Regions from separate parts of the Homo sapiens genome. Here region 2 is linked to region 1. Evidence: fine-mapped expression QTL. Tissue or cell type: atrial appendage. Region 1 holds a variant in brackets; the other region holds the start of a gene. All regions are shown on one strand. Distances are between the middles of the regions. Region 1 overlaps GGTA1 (glycoprotein alpha-galactosyltransferase 1 (inactive)). Region 2 holds the start of GGTA1 (glycoprotein alpha-galactosyltransferase 1 (inactive)).

Region 1 (2,902 bases):
CTCACTGCAAGCTCCGCCTCCCAGGTTCATGCCATTCTCCTGCCTCAGCCACCCGAGTAGCTGGGACTACAGGCACCCGCCACCACGCCCAGCTAATTTTTTTTTTAATTTTTAGTAGAGACGGGGTTTCACCATGTTGGCCATGATGGTCTCGATTTCCTGACCTCGTGATCTGCTCGCCTCAGCCTCCCAAAGTGCTGGGATTTACAGGCATGAACCACCACGGCCAGCCCATTCTTCTTCTTAAAGAGGGCTCCCCAAATGGAATCAGCTTCAAACCCTGCAACACCTGTATTTTCCCCAGTCAAGCCAGGCCAGGCCAGACCCTGGGCTAAACCCCTTTTCAGGAGTCTCTTAGTTAAGCCCCATGACAACCCAGTGAAGTTACTCTATTATTATCCCCATTTCACAGATATGAAAACAGAGGCTCAGAAAGGTGAAGTAACTTGCCTAGTGTCACATAGCATAAGGTGGTGGAGTTGGGGTTCAAATCCAGGGAGCCAGGCTCTAGTGCCCTCTCTTTTAACCACTCTGTTGCTCTAGAAAACATGAAGTCTTCTGCATGGGTTAATTGCTGTGGGGCCAGCTCTTCCTTGGACCAGCTGGTGAGCATCAGCTCAACTCTCCTAGCATTTCCAGGCACCTTCTGTGTGCGTGTTGTGGGGTGTCCTCACTCACAGCATCTTGTTTATTCCTCACAATGGTCAGTGCGGTGGCCTTAGTGTGGCTTTTTTAGCTGAGGAAACTGAGCTTTAGCAAAGGGGCATAGCTTGCCAGAGATCACTGGGCATGCCCAGAAGTCTTGGTGCCAGATTTAAAATGCCTGCCTCCCAGGCCCAGCCCTTGGCATAGGGATGGTGCTGGGTGTAAGGAGGAAGAGTGCCTTATTATCCTAAAACCTCAGTGAGCTGGTGGGTCTTACAAGGAAATGCTTCCACGATACAATTCACGGGGAAGCAGGGGAAGTGCATGGAAGGTTGTCTCCAGTTTTGTTTTTCATTATAAGGGTCAGAGTAAACAGACACAAGAAAATAAGAGACAGGTCTCAGACTGAATACATGGCCCACTGTCGCTCCAGCCATCTCAAATGGAACGACCTGTTCTCTGAAGTATATCTTACAGTGCTTTCTCTCGAATCCCCTTTGGGAAATCTAAAGGCTGAATCCAGCCAGCTTTTCCATGCTGCCTGGTCTGGAAATCACTGCAAGGGTTTTTCCCAGAGAACCAAAGTAAGATAAATGAAAGATGCTACACAATTCTGAGAGGGCTCTGCCTCCATCCATAACTTCACCCTGAGCCCCAAGACTTGCCCCCTGCTCCTGCATTAACAACTTAAATCCTTCAGGAAAAACTCCAGGC[T/C]GCAGCTTGGCTGCAGCCCTGTGAGGTCCTACCAGGGGAGCAAAATAAAGCTGAACTTACAGTGAAGTCCCTGAGCCGGCATCCTTCTTCCAGGTCCACTGCTGGAGAGACAAGGACTTGGTCCTCTTCCAAAACTACTGAGGGGGCCACCGAGAGTTTAGGGCGATCCACCCGTGACCCCAGCATGGCAGAAGCAAATCATTTCACCATCTCACATACCTCCTGCCGCTTTCACCCCAGAGTAAAAGGCAAAACAACAAAGTTCTTTTGAGCTCCCTTCTGCAGAAGGAGGCAGGACTCAGAGAAAGGGAAGGTGCTGGTTTCAACTCCTGTCGAAAGAATAAACAGCTGTTTCAGGAGATGGGGAGTAGACAGAGCCCTCAGCAGCCAGGGGCTTTGTTCCTTGCAGGCCTTTGGGAAACGAGCTGTTTATCAGGCCTGTTGACTCAGAGCTGTGTGCCAAGGCAGAAATGTTCCTCTCTGGATCCATGAGCGGCCCAGCCTCCTTGCCAAGCAAAACCATGGTCCAAACTGGGCCTAGTATGGGAGGAGGAAAGGCCACCACCCACCCTTGAGAGGGACACCAAGGGGGCCCACATCACACACTACTGGATAAAAATGGAAACCATTCTGGACCCAAACAACTTCAAGTGACTGCTCCTAGGACCAGCCACCAGCCAATGGAGACGTTAAAACACACACACAAACACACACACACCACAGAGGAGTGGACAAAGGGCTATCTTGAGAGTCCTCAAGACTGGTGGAAATTCTACCTAAATGTTCCTCAAAGTTAAGTCCTTCCTCTACATCTTTTAGGCTTCAGAAGTCGCTGTTTGGTTTGAACACTACATTTTTATAGAATGTTACGGGATCTCCCACAGCACAAAGCACACTACAAGAACTTTAAAAGGTCACCAAGGCTCAACTCCGCTCTCTGGCTGAATAATGCTTAACCCTTCCCATACCCACCTCCTGCTCCCAAAATAGAATCTTGCAGCTGGAAGGGACCTAGGGGCAGTGGATTTTCTTTCTTTCTTTTTTTCTTTTCTTTTCTTTTTTTTTTTTGAGATGGAGTCTCACTCTGTCGCCCAGGGCGGAGTACAGTGGCGTGATCTCGGCTCACTGCAAGCTCCGCCTCCCGGGTTCAAGTGATTCTCCTGCCTCAGCCTCCCGAGTAGCTGGGACTACAGGCACATGCCACCACGCCCAGCTGATTTTTTTGTATTTTTAGTAGAGATAGGGTTTCACCACGTTGGCCAGGATGGTCTCGATCTCTTGACCTCGTGATCCGCCCGCCTCAGCCTCCCAAAGTGCTGGGATTACAGGTGTGAGCCACCATGCCCGGTGGGCAGTAGATTTTCCAATGTCGAAACAGCTAAAACTTTTTCAAAAAGCAAACAAAATCATTCTCAGAATCCCCACGACCTGAAACAGAGCACACGGAGTCCTTTGGCTAAAGCAGGGAAATGATGCTCAAAGCCCCTTCCTCATCCTCCCACGTGGCTGAGACATCTCCAGGGAGTACAGTCTGGAAACCCCA
Region 2 (2,902 bases), 21 kb after region 1:
AAGGAGTGCAAAGGAAGAGCAAAGCCTCAAAACACCTGCCTCGGGTCTCGGTTCCTTCCTGCCGGAGGAGCGGCTCTCACACCCTCCGCGCCTCCCAGTCCCTCCCGGCCGCCACAGCGGGAAGATCGAGGAATCTCAAATCCCTCTGCTTCTCTGGCTCTTTGCGCGCTGACATTTTTTTCTTCTTCTTTTTACTGTTTTTTTTTTTTTTACTTTCTTCAAGAGTTTGTGCAATCATTGTGTTTAGCCGTTTTCCTGCCATTTCCAAACGCGGGGTGGTGTCCTTTTCGAGTAGGAGCAAGGTTTGAAGAGTTGGAGGAAACTCCCGCCTCCCATCGCCCCAGTGCTGCAGGCACCCCGGATGCCAAAGTTAGTGTCGGAAACTTTCCCCATGCTGGGCGTCTGACTGAGTCCTCGGCTCTCCGAAGCTCTCTGACATCTCCCTCTCTATTCCCTTCCTCCTTGGGGTTCCTGCGACCCTCACTTTATCCCCCCACTCCCAGATTCCCCTTCCCAGAGGCGCGCCCTTCCTATCTTGTCCTGGGCAAGAGCCATTCCTCTGTCCTGCCCCACAGGCAAGGACAGACCCCTCACTCACTGCGACTTACTTGGTCGCATCCTGTGTCCCCTGCGTCTCCCCTCTCTTCCCCCACCCCAACCCCGCGGACCCGTGGGGGAACCTCAGCTTGCAGCTCTTCAGGCTCCAGTCTTGGAAGGCTGGACAGAGGGAGGGACGGCCACAGGATGGGGACAGAGGGACAGAAACTGGGTCCGATTTGGCACCGAGGTAGCGACAAGAACAAAAGCAGGGACACAGGCAGGGCAGACACCGGGCAGCGCCGGAGCAGCGGCCCGCCTCCACTCCCTCACCACCCTCTCCCAAGCGCGGAGCCCCCCGTCCGTGTCCTGCTCGTGGCCTCCGGGGACCTGGGCGGCTCCCCGCGGGACCCACCTGATCCGCAGAACCAGGGCGCCGAGGGCCGGCGCGCGGTGAGCTGGGCTGAGCAGGACCGCGCCCAGCTCCCGGCCCCGGCGAAGCCCTACGCGCTCTGATCAGCCACCGCGCCGCCTCCGCCCGAGCGGAGGCGCGTCCTCCCGCCCGTGGGCCGGCCGGCCGGGCTTCTGCTCTGGGCAGAGCGCAGCGGGTAGGGGCGCGAGGAGCCGGCGAGCGCTGACAGCGGGCTGCGCCAAGCCGGTCCCCGCCCCGGACACAGACAGCTGGAAGGCCGGCGAGCGAGTGCGTGAGTGAGAGTGTGTGTGTGCCGGGGAGGCGGATAAAATCCCCGGTGAGAGTGGCTGGGCCTCTTTTGCCTTCTCGGGCCTGCACGTGGTGGTGGTGGTGTAGGTGATAGAGCAGGAACCCCGGGCGTTGGAGGATGGGGTGGGGTCTGTGCTGTGCTGCTGGGAGGGGCTGCGCTGCGCTGGCGCACGGCCAAACTCTGGGAAACTCAGAGCCTTGGAGATCTGATCCACCGTTTGTTTCCCGAGGAAGGAAGAGCGCGAATGTAGACAGCGGCAGGCCGGGGCTGGAGTCGCTCTTGCGAGAGTCCTGAGCTCTGGAAGTGAGGGCTGGGCGTTGGGCACCTGGTTCAGGGTCTGCCCGCGTTTGCGCACTGACTTCATGATCTGTGAGCCCAGAGTGTCTCAAACGGGGCTCTAAGGCAGCCCCTAGGCTGTGGAATAACTCTTTAGTAGAATTATGTAGAAAGGAATCCAAACATTCGATTTCAGAGTGTGCGCTTCTGTGCCCAGTGTGGCAGCAATTCACTCAGAGAGTTGCTGTGGCCACAACTGGCTGCCCTCAGTTCTCTTGTCTTATACTGATAGCGACAAGGTCTTCTCACTCCCGCTCATATCAATCTACTTTACAGGTGGAAAAGTCAGAACTTCATTTTGCCATTTGCCGTTGAACGTCATTTTCATAGACTAAGAAATTCGCTTCTTAAATAATTCGGCCGGGCGCGGTGGCTCACGCCTGTAATCCCAGCACTTTGGGAGGCCGAGGTGGGCGGATTGCTTGAGCTCAGGATTTCCAGACCAGCTTGGGCAACGTGGCGAAACCCCGTCTCTACAGAATATAGAAAAATTCCCCAGGCCTGGTGGCGTGCACCTGTAATCCCAGCTACTCGGGAGGCTGGAGACTGAGAAAGAAAAGAAAAAATAAAAAATAAATACAAATAAAAATCAAACTGCCAGGCCAGGCGAGGTGGTTCTAGCTTGTAATCCCAGCAGTTTGGGAGGCCAAGATGGGTGGATTACCTGAGGTCGGGAGTTCGAGAGTAGCCTGGCCAACATGGTAAAACCCTGTCTCTACTAAAAATACAAAAAATTAGCTGGGCATGGTGGCACACGCCTATAATCCCAGCTACTTGGGAGCCTGAGGCAGGAGAATCACTTGAACCCAGGAGGTGGAGGTTGAAGTGAGCCGAGATTGCGCCACTGCACTGCAGCCTGGGTGACAGAGCGAAACTCAGTCTTAAATGAATAGACAAACAAACAAACAAAAAAATCAAACTGCCATGAAAACTACTTTACCCAAAATTTTAGTTCACAGCCTTCATTGGATTATCTATTGGGGCAAACAAAGTAAAACCAGCGAGCTTGTATTGCTATCTCATGGCTACAGTTCCAAGCTATTGGATCTTTGTTTGTGTCGGTATATACATGTCTAGATGTGTTTATTTGTAGGTACACTTACTGTTATATCTTGTGCCTACCAAATTGGCATATAAATAAAAGAGTGCTCATAAATTAACTAAATAAGTCTAAGCAATTTTCAAGTTCATATGACTTAAGTATAACTTTAATAAACAGGCTGGTTTTAAAATTATTGGTAAAATAGAAATGCTTTCAGAATTGTCAGCATACATTTTTGTCTGGACTTTATATTTGTCTCTGCTAA

The links. PIP is the estimated chance that this variant, and not a neighbour inherited with it, causes the effect.
Region 2: GGTA1 starts here. The variant in region 1 is fine-mapped to the expression of GGTA1 in atrial appendage (GTEx, PIP 0.97).

What each region holds. Positions count from the first base shown.
Region 1 is chr9:121,477,647-121,480,548 of GRCh38, forward strand. The region is part of intron 1 of GGTA1 (glycoprotein alpha-galactosyltransferase 1 (inactive)); the gene reads right to left. Among named protein-coding and RNA genes, the nearest start is that of GGTA1, 21 kb to the right of the region's middle. The variant T/C (reference allele first, on the strand shown) is at 1,360.
Region 2 is chr9:121,498,698-121,501,599 of GRCh38, forward strand. It overlaps GGTA1 (glycoprotein alpha-galactosyltransferase 1 (inactive)), which reads right to left and starts at 1,147. Exons shown (of 6, transcript NM_001382585.1): 1 at 953-1,147. RefSeq lists a silencer at 1,097-1,196.